2 linked regions of the Homo sapiens genome follow. The protein of the gene in region 1 interacts with the protein of each later gene in a pairwise test. Each region holds a gene or a part of one and is shown on either strand. Other genes may lie near its edges.

What was found. The genes of interacting proteins can lie anywhere in the genome.
Region 2: the proteins of TMEM79 (region 1) and RNF8 interact in binary tests that used the Homo sapiens proteins (3 or more experiments, as listed by UniProt).

Annotation. Positions count from the first base shown.
Region 1 is NC_000001.11:156,290,134-156,292,943, reverse strand, and holds the end of TMEM79 (transmembrane protein 79), read right to left. Parts: intron 1,560-2,810; coding exon 1,346-1,559; 3' UTR 501-1,345; downstream 1-500.
Region 2 is NC_000006.12:37,367,483-37,370,982, forward strand, and holds part of RNF8 (E3 ubiquitin-protein ligase RNF8), read left to right. Parts: intron 1-895; exon of another isoform or gene 896-1,001; coding exon 1,002-1,736; intron 1,737-3,500. UniProt on the Homo sapiens protein: E3 ubiquitin-protein ligase that plays a key role in DNA damage signaling via 2 distinct roles: by mediating the 'Lys-63'-linked ubiquitination of histones H2A and H2AX and promoting the recruitment of DNA repair proteins at double-strand breaks (DSBs) sites, and by catalyzing 'Lys-48'-linked ubiquitination to remove target proteins from DNA damage sites.

The DNA of each region.
Region 1 (2,810 bases):
CCATCTTGCTTTTCTGTGGAACCTCAGAGGCCAGCCTCGACTTCCTGGAGACCCCCAGGTGGGGCTTCCTTCATACTTTGTTGGGGGACTTTGGAGGCGGGCAGGGGACAGGGCTATTGATAAGGTCCCCTTGGTGTTGCCTTCTTGCATCTCCACACATTTCCCTTGGATGGGACTTGCAGGCCTAAATGAGAGGCATTCTGACTGGTTGGCTGCCCTGGAAGGCAAGAAAATAGATTTATTTTTTTTCACAGGGCTCCAGTCTCTTGATGTGTGAGTGTTGTTGGGCTGGTCTTGGGCTGGTTCCAGGGAATGGAAGGGCTAAGAGATGGGCTTGGAAGGCAAGTTTCTGTTTGAGGCTCCATTTCCTTGCTGTGGAACCAAGGAACCTGCCAGCCCTGCTCCACCAGGTAGAGCTGGGAGGTTTCTATCGTCATCTGAATTAAACAGGGAAGGGACACTCGAGACTGGGGGACAAACAGGAAAAAAGAGCCAGCAAAGACTGGTAGTAATTTATTGTTACACACACACACACACACACACACACACACACACACACACACACACTAGGTTAACATCAACCACCGCACCATCCAGGCACTCCCCAGCCACCACGTGTGGGCACAAAGACACACACACCCCTCTTGGTAGGCAGATTTCCCTGTCTGCTCCCCTCTTCCTGTGGGAGAGGCATGCCTTCTGGGCAGTTTAAAGGTGGGAAGTTACAGGGGCCTAAAAAGGTAAAAGAGCAGCAGCTCTGCACTGGCCAGCTGTAAACAGTAAATAGGCCAGTCATGGAGGGTCCTGAATCCAGATCCTCAGGAAGGTTTTCACCAAACACCACAGTCCCATTTGATGTGATGCCCAGCCTCTATCCTTAAGGCATTTCCAGCGTCCCTGAGGCGCTCTGCTTAGACAACTGGCACAGAAGTGGTCAGGGCCTTGGCTGTGGCTCTGCCTCCTGCCTCACGGGAAGCCGGGGAGTGGAGCAGAGACCAGCATTAGGGAGCCTTGTGGCAGTGGTGAGAGGCTGCTCAGGAAGGAGCTGTGCCTCTCCCCTGGTCCTGGCCCCATGCCCTCAGCATCCTTAAGAAACACGGCTGTCCACCTTTTTCCCTGCAAGAAAACTAAGTCCATCCCTTATGACTGTCTCGGGCCCCAAAGGTGAAGGGCAGCTCCGGCAAGGGGAGAACTCCGATTGATTGGAGTCCCTGTTGGGGCAGTAGCAGGGTTCCACCCACCGCGGTCCTAGGCCTGGGGGCGAAGTCCAGGCCTGGCCACAAGGTTCAAAGATGTGTCAGACCCAAGCCGCTACCCCCTACTCCGAGGGCGAGGGCGGAGAGGCTCAGCCCCAGGGGCGGGGCCTGTAGTCGGAGGCCGAGCGGGCGTGGTCCGGGTAGTCCAGGCGGCTCTCGGTGGCAGTGAGCATGCGCTCCGGCTCCACCACGAACATGTAGTAGAGGTTCCACATCAGCATCGACAGCAGTGGCAGAAACGTCAGGCCGTAGCCGAAGCCTCGGAAGGAGCGGCCCACGGCAAAGGTCAGCCAGTAGATCAGCCTATGGGGGCAAGAAAAGGGTCAGGCTACTCTCGAGGGAAGCGCGTCAGCTGATTGGCAATAGGCTGACGGTGGGGGGAGTAGATAGGGGAGGCAGATGCAGTTGGTGGGTATGGCTGGTACTTCCAAATACAGCCAAAGTTTATGCACTTAACATGTATTAGGCACAGCGCTAATTACTATAAGTGATTGATTTGACTTCCCCACATCTTTATGAAGTTGAGTATGTTATTCCTTTCCCTCTTTTATTTACTTTTCGATTTATTTTTATTTTTTTAGAGACATGGTCTTGCTATGTTGCCAGTCTGGGCTCAAACTTCTGGCCTTGAGTGATTCTCTCACCTCAGACTCCTGAGTAGCTGGGATTACAGATGCGGGCCACCACACCTGGCTGTACAAACTTTAAAATGTTTGAGCAAATTCAATGAGTATAGTAAAATATCTTCCTCCCTTTACCGATTCCCACCCTATTCTCCCCCACCCCCACCCCAGGCATCAATATTATGGTTTCTTGTGCACTGAGTGATTTTTTAAATTATTATTATTTTTTTATTTTTGAGACAGAGTCTCTCTCTGTCACCCAGGCTGGAGTGCAGTGGTGCGATCTCAGCTCACTGCAACCTCCGCCTCCCGGGTTCAAGCAATTCTCCTGCCTCAGCCTCCTGAGTAGCTGAGACTACGGGCGCCCGCCACCATGCCTGGCTATTTTTTTGTATTTTTAGTAGAGATGGGGTTTCACCCGAGATGGTCTCAATCTCCTGACCTGATGATCCGCCTGCCTTGGCCTCCCAAAGTGCTGGGATTACAGGCGTGAGCCACCGCGCCTGGCCTATTTTTTTTTTTTTTTAAATTATAGATGGGGTCTCTGTCAGCCAGGCTGGAGTGCAGTGGCAGCCCCCAACTCCTGAGCTCAGGCAGTCCTCCCACCACAGCCTACCAAAGTGCCTTGGCCTCCCAAAGTGCTGAGATTACAGGTGTGAGCCACCATGCCCAGCAGATTTTTTTCTTTTATTTTTTTCTTAAAGACCAGTGTGCTTTTCTTGGAGAAAGAAGAAAAGAAGAAAGAAGGAAGAAGAAGAAGAAAGAAAGGAGGAAGAAGGAAGAAGAAGAGCCAGTGTGATAATACATTGAGTGATTTTTTAAAAAGTGCATATATGAGCAAAAAGTTATTTTTCCCTTTTCTGAAGTATGGCAGCATACTATATAGACTGTCTCTGCATGTTTATTTTTCCCCCATTTAATATATCCTGGA
Region 2 (3,500 bases), on another chromosome or scaffold:
ATCCTCTGCCGCCTGGGTTCTAGTAATTCTCATGCCTTGGCCTCCCAAGTAGCTGGGATTACAGGCACCCACCACCACACCTGGCTAATTTTTGTATTTTTAGTAGAGAGGTGGTCTCACTGTGTTGGCCAGGGTGGTCTTGAACTCCTGGCCTCAAGTGATCCGCACACCTCGGCCTCTCAAAGTGCTGAGATTACAGATGTAAGCTGCCACTCCCAGACAGTAAATATTTATTAAGCATTTATTCTATGTGAGTCATTGTGCTAAGTGATTTACATGCATTATCTTATTCATTCCTCACTGGAACAGTGTGAGGTAGGTACTGTACCATCCCTGTTCTGCAGACAAAACTGAGGCATGGAGAGGTTAAGTAAATTGCCAAATGCTATGCAGACTATGAACCCACATCTGAGTCCAGAGCTCCAGCTCTTAACCGCTATCCTGTATTGCCCATATACCCCTGTTGATATTAATTGGGTCAGATCCTACCTGCCATTTGACCCCAGTACCAGATATAGTACTCTCTTTTTTTTGGTTTATGTGTGCTTGCTTGCTTACCAGTGCGTTAAGGAACCACATCCAGAGATAGCATTTGAAACTACTTCATGGACCTCACCCTTAGCTACTGCTTTCTTCACTAATAGCATTTTTTCTAGTTTTGGGACATTGCTCCAGTTTAGGTTAATAGGAGCTATCCAATTTCAGTTTCCTTTAATGCTATTCCATGTGTTTGAGTAAATTATCCACCAATAATAAGGTGATTCCTGCCTGTTATATGGCAGTTCTCTGTGGAGGCATGAATGTGAAATATAGGTAAAAAGCCAAAGCACTGCTTGACGAATGCTGTTTCTAAGGATGGTCGTTTATGAATCTTTCTTTTCTATTTGTTATCAAGAGTTTTCCTTCTGAAAAGGCAGAAGATTTTACAGCAGCAGGAGAGAGATTCCTTTAAGAAGACGAAAATCATGAAGCTTATTTCTTCTTTCTTTCACTTTCCCCAGAGTCTAAATGGTGTTTGGCTGAACAGAGCGCGTCTGGAACCTTTAAGGGTCTATTCCATTCATCAGGGAGACTACATCCAACTTGGAGTGCCTCTGGAAAATAAGGAGAATGCGGAGTATGAATATGAAGTTACTGAAGAAGACTGGGAGACAATATATCCTTGTCTTTCCCCAAAGAATGACCAAATGATAGAAAAAAATAAGGAATTGAGAACTAAAAGGAAATTCAGTTTGGATGAATTAGCAGGTCCTGGAGCTGAAGGCCCCTCAAATTTGAAATCCAAAATAAATAAAGTGTCTTGTGAATCTGGTCAGCCAGTGAAATCACAGGGGAAAGGTGAAGTGGCCAGTACACCCTCTGACAATTTGGATCCTAAGTTGACTGCCCTTGAGCCAAGTAAGACCACAGGGGCTCCCATTTACCCTGGCTTCCCCAAAGTCACAGAGGTTCATCATGAGCAGAAAGCCTCAAACTCTTCAGCATCTCAGAGAAGCTTACAGATGTTTAAGGTGACCATGTCCAGGATTCTGAGGCTCAAAATACAGATGCAGGAAAAACATGAAGCCGTTATGAATGTGAAAAAGCAGACCCAAAAGGGGAACTCAAAGAAAGTTGTGCAAATGGAGCAGGAACTTCAGGACTTACAGTCCCAGCTGTGTGCAGAGCAGGCTCAGCAGCAGGCAAGAGTGGAGCAACTAGAGAAGACTTTCCAGGAAGAGGAACAGCATCTTCAGGTACCACACAGAAGGGAAGGGCAAGAGTGGTCTTCAGGGGTGGGGCAGGCACTTCATGAGTCTCTGGCCAGAGTTCTCAGTTTCTGGGCCAGGTACCAAATTCTGAGCACCAAAGACAGGAAATGGAATGGGAACAGTAAACTTTTGAGATAAGGGAAGGGGATTGAGTAGAGGGTTAAGGCTTCAGCATGCTGATGAGATCAGGAGCCAGAGTTAGAGTGCCAAGATAGGGTAAAGTGACCAGCAGAGCCAGCCAGGGCATAACTCATCCCAGGAGGCAAAGCTGAGGCAACTCAGAACCAACATGAATTCAGGGGGAAGTTAGGTGAAGGTCAACATGCCACAAAACCACAGTATAGTCCAATTGAATCAATAGTTGTCTTCAAGACTTGTGTATCTTTGCTCTGTGGCCAAGGCCAAATCACTTAGTCTCAGGGCAGGTACAGGTCAGCTGGTTCCTCTGCCCTGGTACCTGACAGTTTGTTAGCTATAAAGGTTAGTTAACTCTGTAGCTAAGCCAGGAGGTGAGGGGCTAAAAAGGCAGAAAATGTTTTTGTTTCTATTTTGAGCAGCCAGCATGTGATGGGACAGATGCACCATGACTGCATTGTTGGGTTGAATGATAAACCACCTTCCACAGTGCCTATAGTAGGAAGGTAAAATAATGACTGTCTTAGCTGTATAAAGGTAAGACCAAATGTATTTCCATCCCTCAGTCATTTGCTTAGATGACAAGCTCTTGCACAAAGCTTTAGGCTAGAGCAGATCCTGTCCCTGCTCAAAATGTCATTTCCTATCTGGCAGGAACCACATATTTTGCTCCCACCCAGTTGCTCAGATAATATTGAATGTCAAGAATTCCCCATTGTTGACTTAGAACTCAGACGGACCAGTCACAACTAAAGTGAATAAGCTTTTTGTTTGGGTTGCTCAGGGTAAGGAACAGCCAGGGGTAGTGTTGGCTTATTTCTGAGCAATTTATAAATTTCATTCTGATCTCTGCCATCCCCTTGAACTGACAGTATTAGCAAAGGCCATGGATTAAATAGGTCTTTTGAGAGTATACACTGCTTACTTATGTGTACCTTTTTGCTTCCCTTATCCAGCCTAGACTAGTTCTTGAAATTAATAGAGGGTGGTTTATGTCTACGTGTTTAGTATATCACACCTTCACCAGGACAGAACTCTCTGTAAAGGCTAATATGTTCAGGAACAAGTTACTGTTGCTTAATATTTGTGGCTGCTCTGGACATGCCTCAAGGTATAGCTGCAAAATCTTTTTCTGTACCAAAATGTTAAAGGCGAAAGGATTGGTTTAGAGAATTTCTCTGGGTATGAGTTGGTTGTGTATATGATGCTCATAGTGAAGTGTATCTAGTCCCTTGTTTATCAGCTGCATCTCCCTCTGCCCACCAAGCCCTGAGGATTTATCCTATCCCCTACTGCTGGTTTAGAAGCTCATTAAACCCTTGCTCCTTCACACTTTTTTTTTTTTTTTAAGTACTCAAATTGCCTGGTACTAGGGAATTCTAGTGGTTATAAAGATGCTTACCAAATGGTTTTTGCCATTAAGGAATTTATCTTGTTGAGGAGGCAAGATGTTTCCTGCACACGATATAATCAGAGAATAGTTTTCAGTCAATATAGTAAATTAGAGAACAATTTCAAGTTGGCATATTAAATGGGTAGGTAATTCTTAAGGACAGAAGGGCCCAGAAGTTCTTTTGGAAGGTGCTGGACATATAGGTTAATGATCACCTGGAA